2 separate regions of the Homo sapiens genome follow, and region 2 is linked to region 1. Evidence: fine-mapped expression QTL. Tissue or cell type: whole blood. Region 1 holds a variant in brackets; the other region holds the start of a gene. All regions are shown on one strand. Distances are between the middles of the regions.

Region 1 (8,107 bases):
TTATAAATTATGTAATATATTGCTATGTTATGCACATCAAGTAAAATGATTTGTGTACATTACAAAATGAACAGGCAAAATAAATTAATCCAGAGGAGTTACAAATGTATATATCTATATAAGTTTCTAATATTTTCTTCTCACCTTCCAATAACTTATTTTACACAAGTTCTGGGATGCAGGCACCCACTGTAGAGATGACAGATGGTATTAAGAGTGTGATCTAGTGTGAGATTTTCTGGGTTCTGATGTTGGCTCCAGCCCATACTTTTTGTGTGGCCTAGGATTTGTTTCTTAAGTGCTCGGTCTAAGTTTCTCCATGTGTAAAATAGGTTTTATAATAATACTTTCGTTAGGGTTTTAGTGAAGATGGAATGAGGTGATCCATGTAAAGTGCTTAGAAGTCTTCCTGGCATTTGGAAAGAGTGCAATAAATGTTATTATTTTGATTATTACAGTCTCTTCAGAGAGAAAATCACTAACCAACTAAGTATTTAATTTCAACTGTGATGAGTACCAAGCAGGGCTAGTCTAGGATGCCAGGAGGGTGTATTGGGAAGACTTAACCCAGTCAGTTTTGAGCTGTGTTTGGAGTTCAGGAGGGAGCCAGGGTTGGAGCAGGGGCAGAACATTCCCAGCTGAGAAACAGCACCTGCGAAGGCTGAGGCAGGAGAGAACTTAACTCCTTGGGGGAGAAGACGAGGGCCCAGTAAGAGGGGAAGAACACTAACAGGTCCAATAGGAGAAGCAGGCTGGCTGGAGACCATGCAGGTCTTCGTGGGCATTGTATCCATCAAGGATCTGTTACCAAAACCAAAACCCATTTGCAGTCGTTTCAGCAGAAAAAGGAGTTTATTAGAGGATATGAAGATACTTTCAAAATTTCTAGAGGGCCAGAAAGTCAGGCTTGTAGGCCAGCAGGTCAGAACAAGGCTCAAACCAACCACACCCTGGGAGTGAGTCAGAAAGGGTCTCTGCAGCTGCCTCCAAGTCTAGACCCCCTCAGCACAGCTCATGCCATTGTTGCCCCTAGGATCTGGACACACTACTGCCACCCTTTCTAGCAAATGGATTCTGCACAGTTGGCTTGCTCATGGCCTCAATTCCAAATGAAGCTGTTTGTTAGACTATCTGATTGGCAGAGCCTGGGTCACATGGTGAGGTCTAGCTGCAAGGGAATCAGGGAAAGTCAGTTTTCTGGTTTCAGCTGTGGGGAGGTAAGAACCTCTAGGGTGGGAAAGTCCCCAAATATGGGAATGATGTCAAGCATTTTGGGCTTAACTGCTTTCACATCATCACATGGTCTGCTGTGGTCAGGAAGGCTGGAGAGGGGCAGAGAGGGGCAATCATCTTTGTAGAAATAAAAAAGAATAAACAAGCCTCAAATAACCAAACCCCAAACCCAACCATTTGGGAAATTAAGAAATGCTACCTCTTGAAAACTTTGTCCATTTATTTGCAATAAGTCTAACAAACCCTCTCAAGAGGTGGTGCTCAAGGGAGCTGTGCAGTGGGTTTGGATGAATGTGCAACCAACGCTGAACAAACATCCCTATTAAAGGGCGTGTTGTTCCAGGTTACAGTTTCTCTCAAGCTAAGGGCAGATCCTTTCTCTCAAAGACACAAACTGGAAAGCCCTGACTCAGGTGCCCAAATTAGGTTTGTGGGGTGGTGGGTCAAGGATTGGAAGGACCCAACAGGACAGAAGTATGAGATGGAAGCATTTTGGCATATCCAGAGGGAGATGGGTTAAGGAAGCAAGATGAAGGTCGGGCAGAGAAGCTGCTTTCTTAAGAAAAAGCTGACCGGGCACAGTGGCTCATGCCTGTAATCCCAGCACTTTGGGAGGCCGAGGTGGGCGGATCCCCTGAGGTCAAGAGTTTGAGACCAGCCTGACCAACATGGAGAAACCTTGTCTCTACTAAAAATACAAAATTAGTAGGGCGTGGTGGTGTATGCCTGTAATCCCAGCTACTTGGGAGGCTGAGGCAAGAGAATTGCTTGAACCTGGGAGGTGGAGGTTGCGGTGAGCTGAGACTGCGCCATTGCACTCCAGCCTGGGCAACAAGAGCAAAATTCTGTCTCAGGAAAAAAAAAAAAAAAAAAAAAAGAAAAAGCTGCATTTTTTCTTAAAGCAACTCCTAATGAGATCATGATTTTCATTGATACAAGAAGCTGGTTGAGTTGGCAGAGCGTTTTTTTGTATTAATGGAAACAAATTACAGCTTAATTCAGATAATAAATAATGCACTTCTAAACACAAAGCAAAATGTATTAAACAAATGGCTGTGGAATAGAAGGTCAAAATGAAACTGTGGTAAGGTGATTTCTCTGCAGCTCAATATTTTCTGTTTATAGTCTGACTTGGAGCCAAAAATAGGATTCTCATTCAGTTGTATTATTAAAAATAAAACGATCTAGTAAGTTAAAAATGGAAGTCTGATGAATCCTCTAGTATTATGTATATAATATAGGCATGTCAAGAGAGAAAATATTAACTAATTATTTTAATGATTTAATAAAAACCAGAATTTCTTAACTGATTATCTAGCAAGTTAAAAACATTGCACACCACTTAAACGTAACAAACTTTTTCTTATCCACATACCTACACACGCACCACCTGACATCACTTGACTATGTTTTTGGTATCAGCCTCCCTCTGAGACTTGTACTAATTTTATTTCAGTGCTTTTCTTCTACAACGGTGGTTCTTAAACTTTTGGGGAGCTCATAAATCCCTTTAGTATTTGACTGTCTCCCTTAAGAATTGCAGTCTCATCTTACTCCTGCAACAAATTTCAAGCAGTTTCGTGGACCGCCAATTAAACTTCTGCCTTAAACCTCAGCTTTCTCCCCATAAATCATGGCAAAGGGAGACAGGGAGCTCAGGCTGGTGTCGGTGATGACATCTGCAAGGATGGAAAGTCCCCACTGGGACTGCTTGTATGTAGTCCCCTGAAATACTGGATTCAGTGGTGCCAGCTTAATGGCCAGGAGAAGTTTTGTACCAGGAACTAACCGATTAGCGTTTTTTTTTTTTTTTTTTTTTTTTTGAAACAGGGTCTGGTTCTGTCATCCATGCTGGAGTACAGTGTACAGTCTTGGCTCACTGCAGCTTTGGCCCCCTGGGCTCAAGCGATCCTCCCACCTCAGCCTCCCGACTAGCTGGGACTGCAGGCATGCGCCACCAAGCCCAGCTAATTTTTGTATTTTTTGCAGAGACAAGATTTGCCACATTGTCCAGGCTGGTCTCAAATGCCTAAGCTCAAGCGATCTACCCACCTCGGCCTCCCAAAGTGCTGGGATTATAGGCCTGAGCCACTGCACTGGCCTGATTAGTTTTTAATAACTATAGTGTGCTAGGTAGAATGGAGGTGGAAATGGCTACAGCACTGCTGCCTTCTGGTTGCCTGGGACCGTCTGTGTCTGCCCCACCTCCATAACAAAACAGACCCTGCCAGCACCACTACAACGCCTTCCCCCCAGGAATCCTGCGGTGTTAGTGCTTTTGAAATATACATTCTTGTTAAGTTCTTAATGATGAAGAATAGCTTCCTCATTGAGTTTCTACTTCTAAGTATACATATACATTTTGAGAGGAAGGAGCTTTTATGTTTTAACTCAAAGGGTGTCTAATGGCAAAGTCCTCTCTGATTGGTCTGGGCACGGGGGACAGCAATTGGGAGCAGAGTTTGGGGATGGGTCCTTTCTAAAATCCCTAAAACTCCTGAACAGAAGATAGTCATTTAATTGCAAAATTACACATAAGGATGAAAATGAAATACCTTTTTGGAGGATTAACAGGAAATATAAATTTCTGTAAGGAGGTAGTGGAAGTTCTTTTCCAAAGAGGTGTTGTGGTAAGGCTTCAAGGTTTCAGATAAAAAGTCTGGTTCTAATCCTGATTCTGCATTCTACTAATTCAGTGGAGATAGAGGAACTTTAGGGCTCCTCAAAAAGTTCAGGCCTCACTTTGTGGCTTTAAGTTTTGAATATTGCCAATGTAGCCATGGCAGTAATTTTGGGAAAATTTCCAACTTCCTGAGCCCAGTTTCCTCATCTGTAAAATGACACACCTGCCTCCCAGTGTTGTTATGTGGAATTAAGGAAATAATACCTGCTATGTATTTAATCAGGTCTAAGGTTCTTATTTCCACCCATACATTAGAAAGGTCTCTGATATTGGGATGGCATCCAGGGGTCTAGACAACCCCAGTTTTATGGGGCCTGAACTCTATATTATTCAGGGACCTTTATAAAAAAGAGAAAATAATACGTGCAAAATTAGGTAAGAACATGAATATTTGTTTAAATGGGAAAATCACAACAAACCACAAATTTTAAAAAGGTGATATAAATCACAAACAACATAAAATACCATAATATTTGTAAAAATTAACTGCCTGGCCCACTTCTGTTATACTTCTTTGCCCTGCATTTTTGGAGGGGAGTGGGCTGTATGACAATGAATTCGTTATGTCTGTTTTCTATAGAGAGAATAGACAGTTCAGTCTTCCTTCTCAATGGTTGACGAAAATTTATTTTTTACTATCAACAGTAAAATGTGTGTTTTCCAGCTTCACAACTGTTTTTGGTAATGTCATATAAATCTTGAGAGTTTTTTTTGTCAAATTTGGGGAAAACCTCTATGAAGTTTCTTTCCTATATGAACTATGAGATTTGGGAAAATTTTCCACAGACCAAATTCTGGCTCACACACTTCACACCTTGTTTATTTTCTGCTGCCCAGGCCATATGCTGCTGGCGAGTGTGGTGGGATGTATTTATATTGGATACAGCCTGGAGCCCTGCACTGGAGCTTCTTACTGCCAGGAGAGCTAGTGTGGTGGAGGGGAGAAGCGGTGAAGCCATTTCTATCCCAGCATGCCCAGCAGTAAGTTAACTGCACAGACCACATACAAACGTCCCACTGAACCCAGACTAAATGTATCCCCAGCTCAACTTCCCCTTTAATAGGATCCCCAAGTTGCCCATAGCCACTCCAGTGCCACCCACATAAGGGGAAGTGTGACAGAGGGGAAGTCAGAGTGGAAAGAGACAGTGGTCTAA[T/C]TGATTGCAGTTAAAATATCTTTTGCAAATTTTACAAAAATATATGGCCACGTGAACACACTGCTGGCCCCTCTCCAAGAACATTGGAAGGGCCCATGCAAATGAAGGGCCCTGAGGCTGAAACTCTCTTAGCTTCCCAGTAAATACACCCTGGATGGCATCTTTCAATTAATCGGCAGTAGGTTTGCTTTCCTGCTGGGCGTGTTACAGTTGGTGGCAACTTAGATTTGGTATCATATATGTAAAGCACCCCATATGGTGCCTGGCACACACTGGAGGCTCACTAAGTGTTCCTTCCTCCCTTCCCTTAGTGAAAAATCAGCAAACAGAGCTCCATCCCTGGCAGGGGACTATGTCCTTCAAGTGTGTTATTGAAGAATCAGCCTTGTAGAAGTTGATATTCCATTAGTTTGCCTATAAAATTTTTAAATTGCAGTTTTTGAATTTATGGATCTTAGTTCAAGGTCAATAAAAAGTGATTGATGGGTAACCAGCGTGTGCCCAGGGACAGAAGATGTCCTCCTGTTGCTTTGTCAGTGGTCGATGATAATGTACTCGTTTCCAGCCAACCCCTAAAAAGGCAAACCCATCGCTAAGAAACAGAAGAAAAAAGAACAAAATGGACTACACTGTATTAAAGACACCTGAGTTCTGTAGAGGAGAGTTTTCCCAGAATCAGCCCAACACTGCCCTATCACCTACCTGAAGGGCATGTGCCAGACAGTCTGAGCTCATCAGATTCAGGACATGAGGAAAGTTATCTTGGTTTTCCTTTCTACTCTCCCTTCTTCCCTTCACTCTTTCCTTTCCTCCATCTTGTCCACATTTTCTAGACTGCTTACTGTCACTTTCTGAAACAAGAAAAAGATTCCACTTTTCATTGCTTATTAATGCTAAATGACTACCCATTCCCTCGAAGCTATTAATATATATATAAAGAAGTAGGGCATGGAGTGCTGAAATGCAACTGTGTGTCACTTAACAATGTAGATATGTTCTATGAAGTGCATTGTCAGGCGATTTCTTTGTGCAAACATCATAGAGTGTACTTGCATAGCTCTAGATGGTACTGCCTACTATACACCTGGGCTGTGTGGTATAGCCTATTGCTCCTAGGCTATAAAACTGTACAGCATGTTACTGTACTGAATATACCATAGGCAGTTGTAACACAATGATCAGTATTTGTGTATCTAAACATAGAGAAGGTTATGGTATAAAAGATAAAAAATGATATACTTGTAAGGACACTTACCATAAGTGGAGCTTACAGGACTGGAAGTTGCTCTGGGTGAGTCAGTGAGTAAGTGGTGAGTGATTGTGAGGGCCTGGGACATTACTGTACATTACTGTAGACTTTATAAACACAGCACACTCAGGCTACACTAAATTCATTTTACTTTTTTTGAGACAGTCTCACTCTGTCATTCAGGCTGGAGTGCAGTGGCATGATCTTCGCTCACTGCAACCTCTGCCTCCTGGGTTCAAGTGATTCTCCTGCCTCAGCCTCCCTAGTAGCTGGGCTTACAGTTGCCCACCACCATGCCTGGCTAATTTTTGTATTTTTAGTAGAAATGAGCTTTCACCATGTTGGCCAGGCTGGTCTCAAACTCTTGACCTCAAGTGATCCGCCTGCCTTGGCCTCCCAAAGTGCTGGGATTAGAGGCGTGAGCCACTGTGCCTGGCTTAAATTTATTTTAAAACTCTTCTTTCTTCAATAATAAATTAACCTTAGCTTACTGTAACTTTTTCACTTTATAAGCTTTTTAATGTTTTTAACTTCTTTTGGAATAACACTTAGCTTTAAACACAAAGGCATTATACAGCTATGCAAAAATATTTTCTTTATATCCTTATTCTATACATTTTTTTCATTAAATTTTATTATTATTATTTTTACTTTTAAACTTTTTTGTTAAAAACTAAGACAACTACACACACATTAGCCCGGGCTTAATCATCGGGGTCAGGATCATCAATATGTCATCAGGGGATAGGAATTTTCCAGCTCTATTCTAATCCTATGGCATCACCATCATACATGCAGTCTGTTGTTGCCTGATGTCACTGTGTGGCACATGACTGCAGGGGGTGTGGGAAGCCCATTTCTGAGTCAGTTAGAAGGCATATATATTTTCTTCCTTTGCCGTCACTTTACGTTTGTAATTCTGAGGCTCTCTACACGGTTCACTTGGGACTGTATGTTAAGGCTGCTGTTAACTATAAAACAGGTTAAACTGTATTTCAGAGTAGGCATAATTAATGAGGGTGTTATTTCAGGAACAATGATAGGGATTGTGAATAGTCAAGATTCATTCTAGAATGAGCAAGAAATTTGCTGGAAAAAAGAGGTGTAATGAAAAAGGAAGCTTCTTTCTATTTCTGATGAGGAGCTTGGTATGTCTGTAGTTTGATTTTGTAACAATTGTTTTCCCTGAAGTAATTTGGATGCTGCATTAGTCTGATTATTATGATTTCCTGTTTAGAACCCAGATACCTTCTCGATATGTCCCCAATAGCATATTTCTGGAAATGACTTCAACCAATTACATTAGCTCTCATTCCCTTGGTTTCTATGTGGTTGACCAGACAGGAATCAGGCTGCCTGAGTGTGCAATCCAGATAGCAAGAGGCAGTCGGTAGAGAGAGTGTGAAATTGCCCTGAGATACTGTGTGGTCTGCAGGCGGGTCCAAGTGAAGGAATGTGATGCAGCTGAGGCCTCGGGGGTGGGGCCGGGGGGCATATTTTTGATGTCTGAAATATCTTGACCAACTGGCCTTTCAGGGATAATTTTGATGACCATGTTTCATCTGGTGCCGAGTCTACTTCTGGTGCTTGACTCATGAAGGTATCAGTGATGACAAGGATAATGAAATTTATCTTCAAACCTACTCCCCTTAAATGTAGTAGATGTAAGCACTGGGACAAATCTGAAAAGAGTCTTCAGCATCTCCTTAAGGTTACTACTATTATGGATAATAGTGCTGTATCATTTACAAAACCATAGCCATATTGTGCAGCAGGTATTATTAT
Region 2 (8,107 bases), 150 kb after region 1:
TTAGTGATGATGAAGTCAATATAACAGTGAACATGATAACAAAATGATTAAAGTAGGTCTCAGGGAATGGAAAATATATTAGGTATGACATGGATTCTTCAGACTTCTCCATAAATGACCAATATTCTAAAATTATCTTGAAAGCTCTTCTACAGAGGGTGGGATATAGTACAAATAAATAATTTTATTTTGAAAAGTGTACTGGTAAAACATAAGAATTCAAAAGCTCTCACCTGAGCAAATGCCTCTATGCATAGCTTTCACTGCCTTTTAATTAAAAATGTTCAGTTTATAGAAGTTTCTTCTGTGATGTGTTATTTCGTTTTCTAATCGGCCCTTTTTTTTTTTTTTTAGACACGGTTCTGCCAGTTAACTGGATTTGTAGGGCCCTTCTTGCACTGTGCATGTCTTGTTTTCATAGGCATGTGTGCTAGCACACACACACACATGCCCCATGCCCTATATACTCAGCACACCTTTATCACCAAGCTATCTCTCTCCCTTTGGTTCCAGACAAGTATCTTCCTGTCCCAGATTTTGTTTTCCCCATTAAAACTGTGTACTCCCTCCCCAGGTCTTTAATTTTTAGGGCTCTGAATTCTTTTATTCCTTTGGCCCCAGAGATTGATGTGTCCTCAGTGGATCCAGAATGACCTCTAAACCTCCTTTTTGTAAGACACTTTTGTAAAACACCCAACTCTGTTTTACAATGGAAATAACAACTGAGTCACAAAACTTGATTCTTTTTTTTTTTTGAGTCAGAGTCTTGCTCTGTCACCTAGTCTGGAGTGCAGTGGTGCAATCTTGGCTTACTGCAACCTCTGTCTCCCCATTTCAAGTGAGTCTTGAGCCTTGGCCTCCCGAGTAGCTGGGATTAGAGGTGCCCATCATTAGACCCAGCTAATTTTTGTATTTTTAGTAGAGACGGGGTGGTGGGGTTGGGTGGGGGGGAGTCTCACCATTTTGGCCAGGCTGGTCTCGAACCCTTGACCTCAGGTGATCCTCCCACCTCGCCTCCCAAAGTGCCAGGATTATAGGCGTGAGCCACTGTGCCTGGCCAAAACTTGATGGTTATAGTCAGAAGGAGCTGACAATCTTCAAATAAATTATGTCAAGAGTGAGGGTTTGACTCAACTTCAAGTATCTTCGGCATCTATGTTGAGAGTGAGAGTTTGACTCAACTTCAAGTAGGTAGGAGACAGGTGGCAGGTAGGAGCACTGAGCTAATAAGTTTTCCATTTGCGATGGGCACTTGACATATTCCAGAACAAGACTCCCAGCCTTGTTTTTCTTTATCTGAACCTCTTCCCACACAAGCATAATTTGCTTCAGTAGTGCTATACATGTAGTTGTGATATTTAAATTTAATATTATTTAGAATTTCAATTTGAGCACAATCTGTGTTTGGGATAAAGTAAATAACTCTGGCCATTCATACATCATCCACTAAACACATCTTGGGAAGACAGGAATCAATGGTCCACAGAATTACTCTTAGAAGCAAGGGGTGATATTCAGAATAGTTAACAGCTGGTGTGACATGGGGATATCCAAGCAGAGGGAGCCCTTGCTGCATCAGGGCTTAAGGGCTTAAACTTTCATTTGCCAGGTTGTGAGGAAGTTGCTTAGTCCTAGGAAAATGGGCAGGGCAGGGATGGTTGCCTGTGAGGAACTAAGGGCAGCAGCTTTTATCAACCAATTCAGAATATTTCAGTAACCATTACAGCCAAATCACCAGCTCCTGGCTGAGTACACTCTGCAGTGAGGTTCATTATACTATGCCTATAATAGTCTGGACCCCATCTCTCTGGAATAGTACATATTTTACACGAAGGGAAAAGGCTAACTTGCAACTTATTTGCATGAAAAATCACGTTGCAAGTACTTCTTAGTTTACTAGATTGTCTCCAATAGTTTCTCAACCTTATCAAGATATATTTGTTAAAACTGTGTGCTCTCCAAAATCATCTACTGAATTTAAACCACTGCACCCCACTTTGGACTATAATTGACTGGAGTTACTGATTGGAAAGGAAGTGGTACACACCCCTAATATACTGACGGACTTACTCTGACAGCTGCTACCACCTGTGGGGACCCTTGATGATGTTCACGCAGCTTTTCTGAGTGGCACATGCTGTTCTCTTGAATACTCCTTGAGGTGAAGAAGAGGCCACCCCTACCCCTATGCACACACAGCTCCTGCTCTTTCCTGGGGCTGCACCCTGCTTGTATTTCCAATGCAGGGATGTCAGATTCCAAAGAGGGCTCCCCAAGGCATTCCAGAAGGCTTCAGGCCAGCACGTCCCAACCTTTTCATGCCATGGGACCCCTTTGGCAGGCTGCTGAAAACCATGGGGTTCTTCTCAGAATAAGGGTTTTAAATACATAAAAGAAACCACAAGAGGTTACAAAAAAAGCCAATAATATTGAAATGTAGCTAACAAAATGTTTTTAAAAATTTGTGCTAGAGCAATATATATGCTTCATTATTGACATATAATATCTGGCTGATTGTCTAATAACTACTGTTATTTGAGATACTTGCAACAACTGTGATGTGATGTAAAAACCTATGGTTTCTAGTGATTACTAAGTCATAAATACTTATCCTACTGCTACTGTAGTTTGTTGTCTACGTTCATAATGGCAAAACGTGCTAAATGTCAGAGGTTGGTGAAAATTAAGACGTAAATTTTTTCTCATCCAAGTTCACAGTACTCTTGAATTAATTACCTCTCCTCGGGTTAAGAACCCCTGCAGGATAAGGTTGCCCCTAGGGCCAACACCTCACTGGAGCCCCGCCTCATGTCCTGGAGGCAGGAGCCTTCATGCCACCTACACAGAACTCGGAGCTGTCTCTTGGCCCAGCAGTTCTCCCCACAACTAGTTCTGAAAGTCCGGGGCTAGGAAAGAACGGCATCGTCGCCTGAGCTCCTGGCGCCACTTTAAACAACCCATCCTTGACTTGCGTGACTTCTTCCACAAGCTCTCCTGGTCACCTGGGCAAAATCCTAGGTGATCTGGGGACAAGGCGGAACTTCGGTTTTCTGATCTGCAAAAAGAAACACCTACCTCATAGGACTGTTAGGATGAATTGAGGTAATGGCTGGGTTGTGTACATTATACAGCACTATCAAGGTGTGCGCTGTGATCATTTTTGAGGGTTGTTAGGTGTTTGAGGACCCAGAACAGTCTACACAGCTGTAGTCCCCAAGTGTTGGGCACGCCTTAAGCGCTCCATAAACACCTGTAGAAATGAATGAATGACGTATGCATCTGCACGTGGGCCCACATCTGCAAGAACAGGCTGCTCAGGCCATGAGGCCCGGTGCATCACCTGCACTTCTCTTTATAACGGGTAGTAAAGTCTCCCTCGCTCTGTGCTACTCGGCAACCACAATTCTGTCCACAGAGGGCGGCGCAGTGGGGCTGCTTCGCCGCGAGCTCGCCTCCGGGGCTCCCACGTCGTGGCTTCCGGGCAGGTACCGGGCAGCTGGAGACGCCAGAGCCGGCGGGTAAGGTGCGGGCGGTGCGCCGGGCCGCGGGCGCGCAAGGAGGGGCGAGAGGGTGGGGAGGGGCGGGGCCGGCGTCCTCGTCACTTGATAAAACGCCTGCGAGTCTCCAGAGAACAACGGGCTCATTCAGCGGTCGCGAGCTGCCCGCGAGGGGGAGCGGCCGGACGGAGAGCGCGACCCGTCCCGGGGGTGGGGCCGGGCGCAGCGGCGAGAGGAGGCGAAGGTGGCTGCGGTAGCAGCAGCGCGGCAGCCTCGGACCCAGCCCGGAGCGCAGGGCGGCCGCTGCAGGTCCCCGCTCCCCTCCCCGTGCGTCCGCCCATGGCCGCCGCCGGGCAGCTGTGCTTGCTCTACCTGTCGGCGGGGCTCCTGTCCCGGCTCGGCGCAGCCTTCAACTTGGACACTCGGGAGGACAACGTGATCCGGAAATATGGAGACCCCGGGAGCCTCTTCGGCTTCTCGCTGGCCATGCACTGGCAACTGCAGCCCGAGGACAAGCGGCTGTGAGTTCCCAGACCCTTCCCACCCCCACTGGGGCGCCGGCCTGCGCGCGAGTTGAGGCGAGGGCGCGCCCTGTTCCCGCCGGCCCCGGGGAGTAGTTGGCCCGTGGGTCGCGCCCGGGCCGGCCGAGGCGCACCCAGCGCCCAGCGCGCTCGGCTCCCCGCCCTGACCCGCCCCGCGCGGCGCCTCCCTCCATTCAGCTCGGGAAGGAGGAGAACCCGAGGGCTAGGCTGGGCCCCGGGAGAGTTTACTTTTTTTTCTGTTTTAAACAAAGTGCTTTCCGCCGGTTCTTCCCTCCGGGCGTGTTTGCTGGGACCCCGGCAGGTGGCACGCTTTGCTGAGCTTCACGTGTGTGTTTGGGGCTGGGGTGGCGTTCAGGGTCACCGCAGCGCTGCTGTGGGTTTGCAGGGAGCGTAGTTCCAGGATGGTCTAGGCCTTTCCCAAACTCACGGTGCACCCCGTCTCCCCCGCAGACTGGCGCGCCCCGCACAAGTTGGAAAGCCACTTTCCATGTGTCCTGCATGACTTTCTCAGCAAGGCGGGGGCGCTCCTTAGGAGATACTTTTACATGCCTTTGAAAAAAAAAAAAAAAAAGATGGGGGTGGGGGCGGGAATTAACCAAACACCTGTTCGCTGGACTAGATCAGCTGAGAAAACAAGTCTGAGTGATGTGCCCAGCCCCCAAAGTACTCGGCCGCACCCGAGACCCGCTCGGCTCCTGCGTTGGGCGGGCACAGCCAAGGGGTTAAAGCAAAATGTCCGATCTGAGCCTGGACTTTGCAAACAAGGTTTGTAAGGGACAACCCCCCACCGTAGCGGTAAACCTCCCAGGAGAAAGAGGAGACCGGCACTACTGGCCTCTCCTTTTATTTCTTAAACAGTGTTTGGTTCCCACATGATCGGCTATTTAAGCCGGAGAGGGTATTTTGGCGCTTAGTCGCCTTAATCGCTATGGGGTTGCATTCTTCATCTGTGCTACTGAAAAATAGGCTGTAGCAACAAAAGGTCTCCCCTCCCCACCCAGGCCTTGAGTTGAACTAAGGACCTTCCAGGACCAACAGACCGGAGAAAGCAAAGTGCAGCCACAGTGAAGAGATTTTGTGTTTAGGAGAGGCGAATGGGATTTTAGAACTGGAGGAAACCTCTTGATTTCAGCGGTTAACAACTTTGGAATTCGTGAATGTTGCAGCCCCTGAATTTTAGTCAGTTTTTTTTTTTTTCTGATAACACCTGCTAGGTGAAGCACAGAAATTAGCTGGGGGTGGGGAGGCTCTAGGAGGGTGGTCTGAGGCTATATGCCTGGCCAGCTGCTTATACTCTGCTTTCTCTCAGAAATAATTGTTGTTAAGCTGTAAATCTGAAATGAAAGGTTCCTGTTAACTCAGTTAATAGATGACGTTTATTGTCTCGGAATACTTGGTGTGTAGAATTTGAGCTTGTTAGTGCAGAAATGATTGTGGGCCAGCAGAGGGAATTCATTCTCCTGGGCATTCTCTCTCTGCACCAGAGCCCCACTGAAACCGGTGGCTTCCTTGAAATACTTGTTCAAGCAAAAAGTGTGAAGGGAAAGTACTGGGACAAGAAATATCCTGGCAGTGGAGATTTGCGAAACGTGACTTTGCCAGGAATCTGTGTCGTGAAGGTTAGCAGCATGCTTGCTAAAACTTGTTACTGCTGCTGGGCTTCTCTGGTATTAGAGCTGAGGCAACTCCTCCCGAGGTAAGGATAAGCCTGCAATGGGGTCTGATGCCTTCTAGGAAAGCTCTTCTTAGCAGCTGACAGAGGGGAGAGGCCCCGTATAAGGAGACTGTATGTTTCCTAGAGTCCAAAGGCAGTGACCACACTTTAAAGAGGCTGTGGTTTATGTCACGTGCTGCCCACCTCCATGCTTTTGTAAAGCTTTATTCCAGCTTCAGGAATAGCATTGGTCTTCCCAGGAGAACCAGCACACACAGGCCATAGCACAGGTCAGTTGTCAACCTTTGACAGTAAAGAATGTGGGTGTAAATGGCAGAGCCAGTAAGACTGAGAAAACTTCTGGACCAGCTTCCTAAACTCTATGGAAAAACTCAGTGGGGGTCTTTCAGGGACCTGGTGGGAGAGAGACCTAAGCTGAGATTCCTTCTCGGCCTTTTATTAGCAGCTGTTAATTTACTTTGAGCTTTAATTTCTTTATCTGTAAAATGGAGATATTACTGCTTACTGGGGTTATTATGAGGATTAAGAGATAATATGCAAAGTGCTTAATGCCTGTCTGGCATGGGTACTTGCTGACTAAATGGTAGCTGTTAATGATCATTTAAAAAGCAGTAATTGTGTACCTACTGTGTGTCAGGTACCTTACAAGGTGTCTTAAACATTCTGTGATTCTAAGATTGCCTGAGAGTAAAGCCAAAGGTGGTTGTTTTTGGGTAATGATATTTTAAACTCAGTCATATTTATGAAACCCATGTTCAAAGCAACTTAACTTTAATAGGTCTTAATTAGACTTATAACAAAAGTGAGTTTAATGAACAGAGGACTTTGAGGAAGGAGAAGTAAAATATCAGATGCATGGGACGGTCAGATAAAAGCACGATCATAGAAGACCTATCATAAATGTTTGTAGTTCAAATTTTCTATAGTGCCTTTAACTATTCAGTCACATTTTAAACTCCAGTTATGACTTTTGCAGAATAATATTGTGTCAGAGAGCCCCAAAACATGTCGGGTGTTCCTAAAGCTTTGGAGACTATAAAATTGAAGTAGATACCATAAACTTCATCCAGGTTTTCAGGCTGTATATTAAAGAAGTTTCGGACTCCAAAAGATTACTCAATGGTCAGCCAAGTTGGTCCGCCGAGTGACTGAGGTCAGGGTCTGAGCACCTTGGACTCTTTAATTTCTCTTAGGTAGTTAAGATTGAGTCATTCCCAGAGGTGGAAGGTATGTGATGATGACTGTGGGTATATCCAGCCTATGAATCATCACTCTTAGCTCTTCTGGGAAGAGATGGATCTATATATGATCACAGGGAAGAACCTAGAAGAAGGAGATCTATAAGAGATAGTCTCATGAAGTCATTTTGGATTTCTGCCAACCCTCATTTTCTTCTTTATGGGGTCTCTCTCTCTGACCACCACTGTCTTCCAGAAATGCTCCAGGCCCGCGGTCTGTTCTGTTCTGACCCTTACTAGGTTTGTTCTTGACTTTTCTCAGACTTGTCATGTTCCATCTCTTAAAATCATATTTTCTGAACTAGAGATCATCTAGTCCAACTGCCTCTTTTTACAGATGAAGAAACTGAAGCTGAAAGTTCAGCTTGAGCAGAATCTTAACAGAATGTGGATTTGAATCTCTGACCCATGCTCATGCCATTTTTAAATGGAAAAGCCAGAAATGTTCTTCAGACCTAGAGAAATCGGCAAGCATCTGAATTTTGGAAGTGTACTATATTGTGTTGATTTATCAAACTGCTTCCCATATGCATAGGTCAGGGCTATCTATTTAAATATTGGTGCCTGGACTCTTACTATTGACTCTATTCCAGCTGGCCTTGGAACAAGTTCTGGGTCCGTCCTTCTTTGCCTGCCTCCACCCCATTCCCTTCTGAAAAAGCCCAGTGAAGTGTGGCTGTAGCTAGCCAAGAATCAGAGCTGTATTCAGGATGTGTACCTAAGCACTTGCTTCCTTGCATTTATTCACTCGGAGTGCCATGTGGCCCAGGGCCATCTTCCAGGGATTGCTGGGTCACCTTGAATGCTAAGAGTAGAGAAAAAGCCAAAACGGGCAGCGAGACTTACAGGAAGTCTTAGGACTCTGCAAGAAAGCAGAAATAGGCAAGTTTAATTTTAACACAGGCTGGTGTGAGACCAAGTAATGACAGGGTTGGGGAAAAAAAGGGTCAAAGTATTTATATGGTATAAATAATTTGTTGGGGAAGTCAGGATAAATGCTTATATAAAAGGATTCCTTTATTATAAAGAAGTGGTTATTCTGTGTTCTCAGTTATATAGACTCTCTTAGCATAACAATATATTGAGATTTAATTTAAGCTTTCATAACCAAATAGTACCAGAATTATGGCGCATGGTTTCCTGAAGACCTCGGCT

What was found. PIP is the estimated chance that this variant, and not a neighbour inherited with it, causes the effect.
Region 2: it holds the start of ITGA6, and the variant in region 1 is fine-mapped to the expression of ITGA6 in whole blood (TOPMed, PIP above 0.99). The same link has a PIP of 0.9 or more in macrophages, monocytes, monocytes after LPS, monocytes after Pam3CSK4, monocytes after R848 and monocytes after interferon gamma.

The regions. Positions count from the first base shown.
Region 1 is chr2:172,275,984-172,284,090 of GRCh38, forward strand. LOC107985960 (a long non-coding RNA gene) reads left to right here. Exons shown (of 6, transcript XR_001739773.3): 2 at 4,754-4,897. Among named protein-coding and RNA genes, the nearest start is that of ITGA6, 150 kb to the right of the region's middle. The variant T/C (reference allele first, on the strand shown) is at 5,074.
Region 2 is chr2:172,423,953-172,432,059 of GRCh38, forward strand. ITGA6 (integrin subunit alpha 6) reads left to right here and starts at 3,634. Exons shown (of 26, transcript NM_000210.4): 1 at 3,634-4,018. The coding sequence starts at 3,837. RefSeq lists a silencer at 3,582-3,661 and enhancers at 4,446-4,946, 6,371-7,570.